2 linked regions of the Homo sapiens genome follow. The protein of the gene in region 2 interacts with the protein of the main gene of each other region in a pairwise test. Each region holds a gene or a part of one and is shown on either strand. Other genes may lie near its edges.

What was found.
Region 1: the proteins of STK39 (region 2) and OTOF interact in a two-hybrid assay, tested with the Homo sapiens proteins (one study listed by BioGRID).

Annotation. Positions count from the first base shown.
Region 1 is NC_000002.12:26,471,481-26,478,900, reverse strand, and holds part of OTOF (otoferlin), read left to right. Parts: intron 1-776; exon of another isoform or gene 777-1,007; coding exon of another isoform or gene 1,008-1,151; coding exon 1,152-1,252; intron 1,253-1,394; coding exon 1,395-1,485; intron 1,486-1,612; coding exon 1,613-1,729; intron 1,730-1,857; coding exon 1,858-2,010; intron 2,011-2,583; coding exon 2,584-2,773; intron 2,774-2,862; coding exon 2,863-2,987; intron 2,988-3,407; coding exon 3,408-3,542; intron 3,543-4,226; coding exon 4,227-4,388; intron 4,389-4,790; coding exon 4,791-4,910; intron 4,911-5,333; coding exon 5,334-5,495; intron 5,496-5,606; coding exon 5,607-5,769; intron 5,770-6,251; coding exon 6,252-6,382; intron 6,383-7,420. UniProt on the Homo sapiens protein: Key calcium ion sensor involved in the Ca(2+)-triggered synaptic vesicle-plasma membrane fusion and in the control of neurotransmitter release at these output synapses.
Region 2 is NC_000002.12:168,244,519-168,252,298, forward strand, and holds the start of STK39 (STE20/SPS1-related proline-alanine-rich protein kinase), read right to left. Parts: upstream 3,078-7,780; 5' UTR 2,918-3,077; coding exon 2,710-2,917; intron 2,544-2,709; exon of another isoform or gene 1,036-2,543; intron 1-1,035. UniProt on the Homo sapiens protein: Effector serine/threonine-protein kinase component of the WNK-SPAK/OSR1 kinase cascade, which is involved in various processes, such as ion transport, response to hypertonic stress and blood pressure.

The sequences.
Region 1 (7,420 bases), about 140 Mb from region 2:
ATAGTGAAATGCCGTCTCTACTAAAAATGCAAAAATTAGCGGGGCTTGGTGGCGGGCACCTGTAATCCCAGCTATTCGGGAGGCTGAAGCAGGAGAATCGCTTGAACCCGTGAGGCGGAGTTTGCAGTGAGCCAAGATGGCGCCACTGCACTCCAGCCTGGGCAACCGAGCAAAACTTCATCTCAAAAAATAAAATAAAATAAAATAAAACAAAATAAAAAAGCAAGGCTAGGGAAGGGAAATGGGGAAAAGGGAGAAGCGAGCAGTGTCTGAAGCTCAGGAGCTGCCCCCTCCTCCTCTGCCCACCCCTCTCCCCCCATGAGCCATGGGCACTGACTGGGCGAGGAGTGCAGCTGTTGGCATGAGACCTCCTTCTCCCCAGCCTGGGGAAGCAGGGACCAGCAGATAATCCCGCCCTTCCCTGAGCTGTTGCTGTTCCCTGTTGAAGTTCCCTGAAGCTCAGCCAGCTCATATTTTATAAAAATGAATTAAAACCTCCAAAAAAATCAAGGCTAATATGAGGTCTGCTCCCAGCCCCCTGCCAATGTCCTCCTTGTCATCCCTGTCTTGTGACTATAACCACAATTAAAGCCCATAGCCTTTGCAGTGTGACCTGGGTCTGCAGTTATCTGCAAGGCTTCCCCCTAAGGAGCTGGGGTACAAGCTGACCTGTGTTTCCTGTGGGACCTGGGTCTCACAGCCCTCCCAGTGCTCTCAGAGCCAGAGCCACTCCCTCTTCCCCCAGGCATCTGTTCCCATCCCCTGCCACAGGCTCCAGCATTCTGGAGTGACGTCAGGATCTTGGCACATCCAGTCCTAGGGTTTCCCTCTGTCTCTGGCCAGCCCTGAGCCCCGTAGCCGTGAGTTCTGCCCAGGCCCTGTGAGCTCACCAGAGCCACAGACTCACAGCCCAGAGGTGGCTTCTTCCTTCAGGAACTGAAGAACCCCCATGAACACCAACATCTCCAGGTTCTGAGAACAGAACCTGGGAAATTGATGACTTCCTCATGATGACCGATACTCAGGATGGCCCTAGCGAGAGCTCCCAGATCATGAGGTCCCTCACTCCCCTGATCAACAGGGAGGAGGCATTTGGGGAGGCTGGGGAGGCGGGGCTGTGGCCCAGCATCACCCACACTCCTGATTCACAGGAAGAAGGCCTGAACGACATACAGGAGATGATCAAAACGGAGAAGTCCTACCCTGAGCGTCGCCTGCGGGGCGTCCTGGAGGAGCTGAGCTGTGGCTGCTGGTGAGAAGGGAGGGGCGGCAGGTGGGGGGAGGATGAGGCGGAACTGGACAAAGGGGACCCTGCCAGGGCTGGGCAGATGAGGAAGAATCTACAGAGCCCCTGCTGGTCAGGCTCGCTAAACCCCGGCTCGCCCTACCCCCAGCCGCTTCCTCTCCCTCGCTGACAAGGACCAGGGCCACTCATCCCGCACCAGGCTTGACCGGGAGCGCCTCAAGTCCTGCATGAGGGAGCTGGTGAGGACGCAACTGGACGGCGGGGGCTGGAGGGAGGGCCTGGTTGTGAGAAGGTGTCACAACCCCCTTTGTCATGGCCCGAGCTGTCCCCCAGTTGCTGGGTTCACTGACACCCCCTCCTTCGCAGGAAAACATGGGGCAGCAGGCCAGGATGCTGCGGGCCCAGGTGAAGCGGCACACGGTGCGGGACAAGCTGAGGCTGTGCCAGAACTTCCTGCAGAAGCTGCGCTTCCTGGCGGACGAGGTGCGGCCCAAGGGGTCGGGGCTTTGCCTCATCCAGGGCTGGCTCTCTGGGGCCCCTCAGGATCAGGGGGCTCAATCAGGAGGCTAGACCCCCTTACCCACTGCCCCTGGCCACCCCCCAACCCCCAGCCCCAGCACAGCATTCCCGACATCTTCATCTGGATGATGAGCAACAACAAGCGTGTCGCCTATGCCCGTGTGCCCTCCAAGGACCTGCTCTTCTCCATCGTGGAGGAGGAGACTGGCAAGGACTGCGCCAAGGTCAAGACGCTCTTCCTTAAGGTGCTGGAGGGGGCAGGATGGATGGGGGCCTGGGTCCTTTCAGGGGAGCAGCAGCCCCCACCTGGGGCTGGAAGCCTGAGTGACAGGGTGGGGCCTTCAAGCAGCAGGTGCTCAGAGAAGAGCCAAGAATGGGAAGGACGTGGGGGAAGGGGTGGGGAAGGAGGTGGGGGAAGGGGTGGGGGAAGGGGTGGGGAAGGAGGTGGGGGAAGGGGTGGGGGAAGGGGTGGGGGAAGGGGTGGGGAAGGAGGTGGGGGAAGGGGTGGGGGAAGGGGTGGGGAAGGAGGTGGGGGAAGGGGTGAGGGAAGGGGTGGGGGAAGGGGTGGGGAAGGAGGTGGGGGAAGGGGTGGGGAAGGAGGTGGGGGAAGGGGTGGGGAAGGAGGTGGGGGAAGGGGTGGGGAAGGGGGCATGACGGCCCCCTGCCCATCCTCCTGCCTCCACCGGACCCCAGCCCAGCGGGATGGCTGTGAAGGGGCAGGGCAGCTCTGACCAGGGCCTCTGCCGGCCCCTGCCCCTTCCCCACCTCTTGGGCCCTGGCAGCCGTCAGGCTCCTGGTGACCCCATGCCCACCCCCAGCTGCCAGGGAAGCGGGGCTTCGGCTCGGCAGGCTGGACAGTGCAGGCCAAGGTGGAGCTGTACCTGTGGCTGGGCCTCAGCAAACAGCGCAAGGAGTTCCTGTGCGGCCTGCCCTGTGGCTTCCAGGAGGTCAAGGCAGCCCAGGGCCTGGGCCTGCATGCCTTCCCACCCGTCAGCCTGGTCTACACCAGTGAGTGAGGACCCCTCACTCGAAGCCTCACCTGGGAGGGGGCCGGAGGGGCTGCCCATCCTGGAACCTCAGGCTGCCCTTCCCCACAGAGAAGCAGGCGTTCCAGCTCCGAGCGCACATGTACCAGGCCCGCAGCCTCTTTGCCGCCGACAGCAGCGGACTCTCAGACCCCTTTGCCCGCGTCTTCTTCATCAATCAGAGTCAGTGCACAGAGGTGAGGGCCTGGGAGGAGGGAGTGGCTCTGGCTTTGAGAGCACCAGAAGCCTGTGAGCCTGTGGGGACTGGAGCCTGTGGGGCCTGTGAGCCTGTGGGGCCTGGAGCCACAGGTCAGCCAGTGCCCCGGTTTCTCAGGGGAAGCCCTGCAGATAACTGCAGCAGACGCGGGTCACACTGGAAAGGCTACGGGCTTTAGCTGTGGTTATATTCACAAGACAGGGACGACAAGGAGGACATTGGCAGGGGGCTTGGGCCAAACCTCATATTAGCCTTGATTTTAAGATTTCTGGAAGAATCAAGACACCTGTCACTCCTGCCCCCAGGTTCCGTGGAAGCTGAGTGAGTAGGGGTGGCTTCTGTTTGTGCATCTGCCCCCCCCTCTGTCACTTGTCCCCTGTCTCCCCATCCCATGCTGCAGGTGCTGAATGAGACCCTGTGTCCCACCTGGGACCAGATGCTGGTGTTCGACAACCTGGAGCTCTATGGTGAAGCTCATGAGCTGAGGGACGATCCGCCCATCATTGTCATTGAAATCTATGACCAGGATTCCATGGTATGGGTGGGCTCTGGTGCCAGGGACCCCAGCAGCACCACACCTGGCCCTTGTTCCCTGCACTCCACCTGCGCTGAGGCTGTGCCCTCACCTCCGCCACCCACCTGCAGAGCTCCTTGGCCAGGTGCTGGCTGGGAAGCTGGGAGTGGGGGCTGACATCTAGCTCCTCCTGCCTGCTTGCGGCAGCCTGACCCCTTCCCAGGCCAGCACATCCTCACCTCCTGTCTCCTACAGACTGAGCCCTGGAGGTGTGCCAGCAAGTCCTGCTGTCACTAGCCTCCCCACCCCAGGGCTCCCCGACCCCTGCCCTCACCTACCACAACCAGTAACAGCCTTGCCATCCTCCGTGGAGGTTCTGGAGCAGGGAGTAAGGGATTGGGGTGACCCCCGAGAGTTAGCGAGCCACCTTCTCACATACCACCTCAGCTGCTGAGGTGCCCAGATAGCCCTGGACTAGAGGTAGGAGGACCTCATGTCTAGTCCTGAGCCGGGCATCTGCCATTTACTGACTGCTTGGCCTTGAACAAGTCTTTGGTGGGCCCTGAGACTTGGTTTCCTCATCTGTAAAATGGGGTGATCACACCTGTCCCTTACAACAACTCATGGCGCTGTGGTAAGGACCAAACGAGATCACAGGTGTGGACAGCAAGCACCAAGAGGCTTCTGGGTTGTCTGTTGCGTCAGGGCAAAGCTGACTTCATGGGCCGGACCTTCGCCAAACCCCTGGTGAAGATGGCAGACGAGGCGTACTGCCCACCCCGCTTCCCACCTCAGCTCGAGTACTACCAGATCTACCGTGGCAACGCCACAGCTGGAGACCTGCTGGCGGCCTTCGAGCTGCTGCAGGTGGGACTGCAGGGAAGAGGGGCTGAGGCCTGGGGACTGGAGGCTGGGAGTTGGGGCCTAGGGCTGGGGGCTGGACCCTGAAGGCTGGGGCCTGGGGTCTGGGGCCTGGGGGTGGGGCCTGGGGGCTGGAGGCTGGGGCCTGGGGCTGGGGGCTGGGGCTGAGGGCTGGGGCCTGGGGCCTGGGGGGTTAGGGCCTGGGCGTTAGGTCCTGGGGGTTGGGGCCTGGAGCTGGGGCCTGGGGGCTGGGGCCTAGGGGCCTCTCTCCTACCCATCCTGACCAAAGCTGGGGGCGTGGTCCTTAGGGGGTTTCCCTGTCTCCCCAGATCATGGCAAACAACTCATGGGGAAAGAGACCCTGTCCCTGGGCTCCCCAGTGTGTGACCTGTGACCCCCATTCCCCAGATTGGACCAGCAGGGAAGGCTGACCTGCCCCCCATCAATGGCCCGGTGGACGTGGACCGAGGTCCCATCATGCCCGTGCCCATGGGCATCCGGCCCGTGCTCAGCAAGTACCGAGTGGAGGTGCGAGGGCTCTGTGTGGCCCTTCCCTTTTGGATGAGGAGTCTGAGGACCCAGGAGGGGAAGTGGCTTGTCATCCCCCTCCCACCACCATCACCAGGAGCCAGCAGCAGACCCAGGCTCCTGCCCCAGCCCAGGGCCTGCCCCCATCTGCACCAAGTCGCACTCCCATGTCCCAGGACCATGCCCAGCCCTCCTGTCTGCACCCCTGACCCTGCACCCCTTCTCCGGGCAGCCCCACCCTCATCCCTGGAGAACGCCTGCCCCTCCTCTGCTCTCCTGGCCCTGCTCCCACCCTTTGAAATCTGGGGTGAACTACTGCCCATCCCACTGCCCGGTTCCCTATTGGATGGTCCAGCACCCCCATGGCTGGCTCCCTTGACTAAGGGGCTCTCTTCTCTGCACCCACCCTCCAACCTCTCCCAGGTGCTGTTCTGGGGCCTACGGGACCTAAAGCGGGTGAACCTGGCCCAGGTGGACCGGCCACGGGTGGACATCGAGTGTGCAGGGAAGGGGGTGCAGTCGTCCCTGATCCACAATTATAAGAAGAACCCCAACTTCAACACCCTCGTCAAGTGGTTTGAAGTGGTGAGTGCAGGCCCTGGCGGAGGACATCCTGTGGCCAGTGTGGCTCCACTCAGCCAGCCGGCTTCCTCTGCCCCTTCTTGGAGGCTCAGGCTCCTGTCGCCAACACCCCAGGACCTCCCAGAGAACGAGCTGCTGCACCCGCCCTTGAACATCCGTGTGGTGGACTGCCGGGCCTTCGGTCGCTACACACTGGTGGGCTCCCATGCCGTCAGCTCCCTGCGACGCTTCATCTACCGGCCCCCAGACCGCTCGGCCCCCAGCTGGAACACCACGGGTATGGCCACATCCACCCTGCCACCAAGCCTGGCTCCACGCCCCCCAGGGAAGGGCTCCAGGTCTCCGCCCAGTCCAAGCCGCGACCAGAGTTTGCTCTTTGGGGCCGAGGGGGTGGGCATAGAAGAAGGTCACCCTGGTGGCCAAGGAAGGCTGCCCAAGGTGACGCCAGCTCTACAGCCAGAGAGGGCAGAACTGGAGACAGCCTGGGGGGGCCTGAGGGCAGAAAGCCCCTTGCGCTGGTTGATGGAGAAGACCCAGGCCTCCCCGCCACCTCCCTCCCACCGGCCTCCGCAGCTTCCCCTTATCTCGGGCTCTCTTCTTCCCTCCCCATGCCCATATTTTCTCCCTTGACTGCCTGTCCCCCTCTCCCTCAGAAAGTTCCAGAATCAGCTTTAGTTCTCCGCACCTTCCTGCCCCGCCAATCTCACTGTTCCTCTTGCTCCTTCCTCTGCCTGTCTGTCCATCTATCCATCTGTCCAGTCAGGCTTCTCCGGCGCTGCCGTGTGCTGTGCAATGGGGGCTCCTCCTCTCACTCCACAGGGGAGGTTGTGGTGACTATGGAGCCAGAGGTACCCATCAAGAAACTGGAGACCATGGTGAAGCTGGACGCGGTAAGGCGGGTGGGGTCAGCCCCCTGCTGGCTGGGAACATGCAACTTCGTGTGACACATCCTGTGAACCAGACTATCTGCCCCGAGAGAAAAGGACACTAAGAGCCTCCTTTGGCATGTGACTGTCGGGGGCTGAGCTTGATTGTGTGTCCAAACAGCTCCCTCCTAATACTATCCTGGAATGCACACGCGTGCGTGTGGTATGTAAATGTGCATGTGTGTGCGCATGTGTGTGGTGTGCATATGTGCATGTGTGTGTGCATGCATGTGATGTATGTGCATTTGTGCGTGCATGCGTATGTGTGGTGTGCATATGTGCATCGTGCATGTATGCATGTGGTGTATGTGCATGTGTGTGTGCATGTATGTGGGGTATGTGCATATGCACGTGCGTGCGTGTGGTGTGCACATGTGCATGCATGTGTGGTGTATGTTCATATGCACGTGCATGCATGCATGTGGTATGAGCATGTGCATGTATGTGTGCATGCGTATGGTGTGCATATGTGCATGTGGTGTGTGCATATGTGTGTGCATGTGGTGTGTAAATGCATATGTGCATGTGTGCAGTGTGCATGCATGCGGGTGGTAGGTAAATGTGCATGAGTGTGGTATATATGCATATATGTGTGCATGTGCGCTTGTGTGCATATGTGCATGTGTGCATGTGGTATGTAAATGTGCATGTGTGCATGTGTGCATGTGGTGTATGTGCATATATGTGTGCATGCATGCTTGCGGTGTGCGTATGTGCACATGCGTGCATACATGTGGGTGTGTGCATGTGCACTGGCATGTGGTATGTGTGTATGAGAGACAGAGTGAGCCATCACAGTTTATTATAATCACCTGCTATAATTTTTACTCCAACAAATGACACCATAGGTAATGATTCCTTATGAGATCATCAGTGTCCTTTCCAAAGAGTCCCTGGTTTTCCATCCCAGCCATTCACAAATGACACTTCCCTGGCCTGGGTCAGAGGAGGATTTCCAGGTGGAAGCTCCTTATTCCTCCTGGCTTTGGGCCTAGGACTGTT
Region 2 (7,780 bases):
GGCTGTCAACTGGCATTCATGTTGAAACTGGTTCAGTGTTTGAACTGCTAACTTCTGCGTGTAATGTTTAAGCAAAAGTGCTTAACCACAAGTTCAGTCTTAATCTCTCAACTAGCATTAAACCCTAAATGGAAACAGGTTTGTAATTCCTTATAAACATTAAGCCCTTGCGAAAAACCTATTCCAGCAATTTGATTTTTCAATAACAGGGCCTCCACACAGGCCAACTCTTTCTCTTTTAGTTGGGAAAATATGAGATAAACTTTAAATGTAGAAAAGCCCTTCCCACAATGCAAATGCGCAAAAGTCAGGGTAGAATAAGCAGGTGTTTTTGTTCTCAAATTCCTCAGGTAAATTTCTTTTTTTCCACTAAACTGACCAACCATAATTAACACTGCTGGGACTGCAAACAGAAAGAAGTCCTGCCATTAATCCCACTCAACTTAAACTAAGATTTTATTAGTTCACAAAAAAATACTGTTTTCAAAAGGCAACGTTTGTATTTTAACCCTAATAATTGACCAAGTAGGTATATAAATTGATTATAACTTCTCCCAATCCTATGGACTCTATGGAGAATTATGTGGCAGATACCATTATTCAACTTTTATGGCCCACCTCTTCCTGTCAGAGTTCACAGCTGGTTAGTGAAGGCAACAGTGGAAATAATTAAGCACCTTACAAACTCAGACTTAAAACCCAGCTCAACTACGACCTCTACTAAGAAATACTCTGCTTCCTTCTCTTTCCTGGCAGTCACTCCCTCCTTCGGGCTCTCCCAGTACTTACTCATCACATCCTATAGGATCCTTTCCCTATGTCTCCTAACAACTTAGGGCAGGGATCACTTTTGTTAATTTCTATATTGCTAGCAAGTGGGGCAATGCTTGGGACACAGCAGGCCTTCAGATCTTGTTGCGCAAATAACAACTATGAGGTTACATGCTATGAGGTCTGTAAAAAGAGGGGCAGAAGAAACCACGGCATTTTGCCTTGAAAGAAGCAGAAGGCTTTTCAAGGAATATTCACACTCACCTTGGAAGCGGAGTGAGATTTAGTACACAAAGATGGGCACTCACAGGAGGGAAGAGCCTCTGCAAGGCAGCAAAGAATGGAAGACCAGATGTGCGGAAGACAGCGGTGTATTCAGGAAGCAATCACTGAAGAGTAGACAATGGGAGGAGGCAGGCAGGTTGAGGGTACAGGGCCTATATGCCAGGTTAAAGAGGTTTCCATGGAATATTCCAGGCTTTGAGAAGCCCCTGAAGCTATTTCAGGCAGTGACATGAAGACTCATCCCTTTAGAGTCTTTGGTCAAAAATTATGAAAGATCTGGGTTTTCAAAGAATTTTGTCTACAGATGCCTATTATAGGTTATCTGAAGCTTGTATATATCCTAGGTTACGGACCTGCCCAACATTTTCTCACATATTTTTATGTATATATTTATATATATATTTCCGTCTATGCTGTTTTATTCCCCAATAGCAGGTGATAAAGGCTCATTTAAACACCTAGTGAAATTTTTATATCTGTTTTAATTTTTTTAAAAGGAGGTGAAGAATTTTTTGAAGTGAAAGTTAGAAAAAATACTTAAGATAAATATTCTGAACTCCTTTTTCATCGCTGTACTTATATACCAAGATTCTGGAAAGGCAACATCCCATCCCTGCGTCAGTAAGGTTAGACGCTGAGGGCCCACTTAACCTGGAGGCTTCCCTAAGTGACAAGACTCTCAAACTGGATGATCCAATAGGGAAGGTTCTAAGTCAAGGGACAAAACAAATCTCCTGGCCCTTCAAGTGCTTGGCCCAAGGAAAAGTAACGCCGAGCCCTGCGACTCTGCCAGGTATTTAAAAATGTAAGATAAGGTGATATTTGTGAGCCGGCCAGAAGGCAACGAAAGGCAGAGAGCAGATCACCGGCAGCCTCGGATTTCACTCTTGCAGCTCGGCCTGAAACAGAGGGAAGCATCGGCCCGGTGCAGGGCAGGAGGCCAGGGCACCCGCTTTCCCCGGGGAGCCGGACTGGGCGGCAGGCGGCGCACCCTGGCACGGAGGGAGGCGGGTACCCGGGCGCGCCGAGTGGCGCGGAGAGCCGGGCTGCAAGGCGGGCGTGGAGTGGCGGCTGTCAGGAAGAGAGGCCAGCATCCTCCCCGGCCTCAGAAAAGCACTGGGGCCTCCGCGGCTTCTACGTGGCCCCGTTACCCACGACGAGAGGGTCACGACGGGAGGCAGAGGAGCGGCTGCGCCCGCAGAGTCCCCCAGGACGCGGCCCCCGGGGCCCTGGAAACCCAGGGCGGGGCCCCCGCAACCACACCCCACCCGCGGCTGCCTGTCCGCGTGGCCACCGGCCACGGGCTGCGGTCCCGGCACGCGGGGGGAGGAAGATGCGGCGGCGCCGCCTGGTCCTCCGCTCCACCGCCCCGGCGATCCCTGAGATAAAAGTTTGCAGCATGCGGCTCGTCTGCAGTGCGAGTCACATCCGCCGCGCCGCCTCCTGCAGCACCAACGCTCATAGAACGAACAAATACATTAAAAATTAAAAAAAAAAAAAAAAAAAAAAAAAAAACTGTTGAAGCCAGTAGGCCCCGAAGCCGGCCTCTCTGCCTCCAGGGCGTGCATGCAGGCTAGCCCAGCATCCCGCGCCCCCTCCCGCCCGGCCTCGGCGCCCGGCCTGTGCCGGCCCCGCCGCGCCCGCCGCACTGACCGATAACCTCCTGCAGCTCGTACGCGTCCCTGCAGATGGGCCAGCCGACAGCCTGTGCCGCCGGGGCCGGGGCCGGGGCCGGGGCCGCGGGAGCTGCCGGGGCCGGCGCTGCTGTCGCGGCCGCCGGGGCCGCCGCCGCCGCCGCTGTCACCGGGGCCGCCTGCTGGGGAAGCTGGACGTGCACGGGCGAGCCGCTCGGCTCCGCCATGATGCTGCGGAGGAGAGCAGGAGGACGCGCCGGCCGACGGACGACCTTCCACTTGAAACTTCCTTTGCCTCGCCGCCGACACCTCTCGGCCGGCGCACGCCCTCCCCGCCCGCCGCCGCCGCCGCCGTCCCCGCCGAAGCCAGCTAGGAGGGGAGGGAGCAAGGGAGGCCGAGCTGGGCGGAGGGAGGAGGCAGCGCCGGCGGAGGCGGGGAAGGGAGGAGGCGGCGGCCGCTGCGCTCGCCGCGCGCCCAGAGCCTAGCGCGCGCTGTTCTCCGCCTCGGCGAGGGGAACCGCCGCCCCCCCTCTCCGCCGCCCCCTCCCGCTCCCGCTCCGCTGGCGGCCGGGGAAGTTCCCACCAAAGGAGTCAGGCCGCTTTGTGTGTGCTTTCGGGGCCACCGGCCCTGGTTCTCCTCCTCCCTCCCTGCTCGCCCTGCGCCTTGGCCCCAGACGATCAGGCTTGCCGGAGGACGCCCCCTGGGGACCCCGAGGGCGGGGTCGTTGAACGGCCGCCAGGTTCTCACATTCAGAATTCTCCTGCCACCAAAGAGAACCTGAAGTTCATTTACAAGTTGACGAGCGGGATACCTACATGGTGTCCCTTTGCAAGACGCCAGTTAGAAAATAACCCAAGTTGTAAGTTTCCGGCGCTTTACTTGCCGGTATCCCTTTCCCACCTTGCCTAATCTAATCGCAGTCCTTCTAGTTTTTCTTAGTAAATGAAACTTGATTCCTTAGGTCTCTGGCTGTTCAGACTTCATTTTTTCCAAGCCGCCTGGATCCCAGGGAGGCGATTTAAGGGGCTGTGGAATTAGAATAAGACATGCAGGAGAGGTTTAGAAAGTTTGCTCAAATTCTACACCCTTAATAATTGCCACGTTAGCCCGTGAGGACACTGAGGCCAGACATCAGGCGTTTCTTTAAGAGCGTATACTTGGTGGGGAAATAATTTATTGGGGCATGAATAAACTGTGTTGGAAGCTTTTAATTGCTGTTTTTTCAACACCCCAAAAATAACCTCGTCTGTAAAACTGCTATGGTAAAACCATAGGTTTTCCTAATTATAGGTGTCATATTTAACAGTGAATGTTCTCTGTGTTCCCTCCGTGGAGGTGACCAGGATCCACCGTTCTTGTCTCCAACTGAAACGGGGCAGTAAACCAATAGTATTGGTCGTTTGGCCAAGATGATCTTGTCTGGTTCTCATTGCTAGGACTGCTGAAGAAATAGGTAAGAATAATGAGGATGTAATAAAAACTCTAGGGATATCATGATTTTGTCTCCCGAGTGTATGTACAGAAATCTCACTAAAATTTTTGAAAGATTATTCAGAAGAAGCCCAGAAATTTATTAGGAAAGTTAGTTGTCTAATCAAAACATTGATGTCCACTGAAGATGAGGGCACTTAATCTCTTGGAGCATTACAAAAGTTGGAGTAAAGCAGCTACCTCGCTCTGGTCTTGAAGCAGAAGTTCATGCTGAACTAAGTGTACATTCTTTGATGCGGAGGACTTCAAAAACTGTGTCTTGTCATGTCTGTCAAGAAACAGAGCCCTTCATAAACAAATTCTAGGCCTCTGAGGAACAGGGGAGCTCTTTATACCAAGCCATGGCTGCTGACCTCTTCAAGTGCTGCCTCCACCCTACCCCAAAGAACTTTTAAGGACTGTTTTTAAAGGAAAAGAAAAATGATCAAATGAATATGACTTCCATTTTGTCATATGAATTTCTATTTTTGACTTTCAAACCATGAAGTGGGATTATGAAGACCAGGAATGTTCTTGGGACTTAGTAGGAAAACATGATGCCGTCAAGATCAATATCACAGAATTGAATCAAACACAGATCAATTAGTCTCCCACAAAAAGCAACTGTTCCCCAGTCACAGACTACATGTCGGTCTCTAGTCAACCGCTTTCCAAATGGCTACCAGGATGAAGACTTGCTTGAGTGGATGACTCAGTGCACATCCATCATTTCTACAGTAAATCGGTTTAAAGAAGAATGTCCCCTGGCATTGCTCTTTGGCATCATTTTTATAAATGAAGAACAGAATATGAATAATATTTTAAAATTATACAAAAGCATTAGAGTTAATGTTTCTGTAAACAATTGGGTAAAATGGTACTTAAAACTTAGAAATATATGTTTTTTAGAAGTATTCAACTGATATGCACTTTTCCCGGAAAATCCATTACTAAATTTAAATTGAAAGATGGGGATGGAGGCGGGTGCCTTTAAAATATAAACAAGGTTTATTTCAATGCATAAAGAGTACATTCAGTGAGCGATGTTAAAAATAGAAAGGAAAAATAAGGGTCTAAATGTTTTTAAAGTGTATCCAACTGCCTCATGATGTGTCAGGGTTTCTCAATCTCAGCGCTGTTTTGTGTCAGATAGTTCTCTTCGTTGTAGAGGTCTGTTCTCCTGTGGTATGGTCTGAATGTTTCTGTCCCCCCAAAATTCATATGTTGACACTTAATCGGCAGTGGAATAGTATTAAGAGCCTTTAGCAGGAGATTGGGTCATGAGGACAGAGCCCTCCTGAGTTAGATTAGTGCCCTTATAAATGAGGCCGGAAGGAGCTTGATGAGGATGCAGCTAGAGGCATTAGCTATGAAGTAGAGGGCAAGCCCTCAGTAAATACCTAATTTGCTGGCACCTTGATCTTGGACTTTCAGCCTCCAGAACTGTAAAAATGAATTTCCGTTGTTTGTCAGCTACCCAGTCTAAGGTATTTTGTCATACCAGCCAGAGCAGACAAAGGCACCCTGGCCTCTATGCACTAGATGCCAGTGGCAACCCTGCTGCTGACATTGTGACTATCAACAATGCCTCCAGACATTGCCAAATGTCCCCTGGAGGGTAAATAATGCTTTAGATGAAGTAAGTATACATTTTCATTTTATAAACAGATTATTGCAGTGGTTATTTGTATTACAAAGAGGTTTCGTAGAGTTCCATTATTTATTCATAAACCCTTTGAACATCTAAGAGAGGATGTGTAGTGAAGTGGCCAACGCCTTGAAGAAAGAAAGTACTGGATTCAAATCTGGACTTCGATGTTTTGTTTTGTTTTTTGAGACAGAGTCTCGCTCTTGTTGCCCATGCTGGAGTGCAGTGGCACAATCTCAGCTCACTGCAACCTCCACCTCCCAGGTTCAAGCGATTCTCTTGCCTCAGCCTCCCAAGTAGCTGGTACTACAGGTGCCCACCACCACGCCCAGCTAATTTTTGTATTTTTATTTATTTTTTTGTTTTTGTTTTTGAGACAGAGTCTCGCTGTGTCACCCAGGCTGGAGTGCAGTGGCGTGATCTCAGCTCACTGCAAGCTCTGCCTTCTGGGTTCACGCCATTCTCCTGCCTCAGCCTCCTGAGTAGCTGGGACTACAGGCACCCGCCACCACGCCTGGCTAATTTTTTTGTGTTTTTAGGAGAGACGGGGGTTTCACCGTGTTAGCCAGGATGGTCTCGATCTCCTGACCTTGTGATCCACCCGCCTCGGCCTCCCAAAGTACTGGGATTACAGGCGTGAGCCATTGCGCCTGGCCTATTTTTGTATTTTTAGTAGAGACGGGGTTTCGTGTTGTATTTTTTTGAGACAGAGTCTTACTCTTGTCACCCAGGCTGGAGTGCAATGGCACGATCTCGGCTCACTGCAACCTCTGCCTCCAGGGTTCAAGGTATTCTCCTGCCTTAGCCTCCTGAATAGCTGAGATTACAGGTGTGTGCCACCACACCAGCTAATTTTGTGTTTTTAGTAAAGATAGGATTTCACCATGTTGGCCAGGTTGGTCTCACACTCCTGACCTCTCAGGTGATCCACCCACCTTGGCTTCCCAAAGTGCTTGGATTACAGGCGTGAGCCACTGTGCCCAGCTCAACAGTTTTTCTAGAGACAAGGTCTTGCTCTGTCACCCAAGCTGGAGTGCAGTGGCATGATCATGGCTCACCGCAGCCTCGAGCTCCTGGGCACAAGCAATCCATCTTCCTCAGCCTCCCAAGTATCTGGAATTACAGGTGTGTGCCACCATGCCCAGCTAATTTGTATTTAATTTTGGAGAAGCAGGGTTTTGCTATGTTGCCCAGGATGGTCTTGAACTTCCTGGTCTCAGGTGATCCACCTCAGCCTTCCAAAGTGATGAGATTATAGTGTGAGCCACCATGCCTAGCCTCATTTTTTTTAAGTCTCTGCCTTTGGACTTACTTCACTCTCTGAGTCTCAGTTTTCTCCTGTGCAAAAATCAGTACAATAATAGCTTCCACATGGGTTGTTATAATGGCTTAGGATAATGGATGACACATAATAGAAGTTTAACAAAATGGAAACCACCACCACCATCATCATCATTATTCCTGTCTGCCAAGATTTGTAGCAAAATATGTAGTGCAAAGATATATAATTACAAGAATGAACTTTGCAGAATATAAGCTCCCTGAGGGCAGGATTTTTTGTTCCTTTGGTTTACTGCTGTATCCCAGTACCTAGAAAAACACCTGGCACAGAGGACACTCAGTAAATATTTGTTAAATGTTAATGTAACACTTTTTAAATACATAAAACATACTTTTAAGCATCAGAATGAGTCAGCACTGGCAAGGGTGGATTTTATAGGAGGAAATTGGAGGCAAGGAGACCTATTTGGAAGCCATTGCAATAGTCAAGTTAGAGAAATGTAAATATTAGCTATTATATTGAGGATAATGATGAGGAAAGTGGCTTTAAAAATTATTTATGGAGCAGAGAAATAGAACTTGACGACAGACAGATAAGATTCTTTTAAAAGTCAAATTGCCCCAATGCATTAAAAAAGTGGATGTGCACAAATGCAATTTATAAAATGTTTTAGAAATGCATCCGTGGGA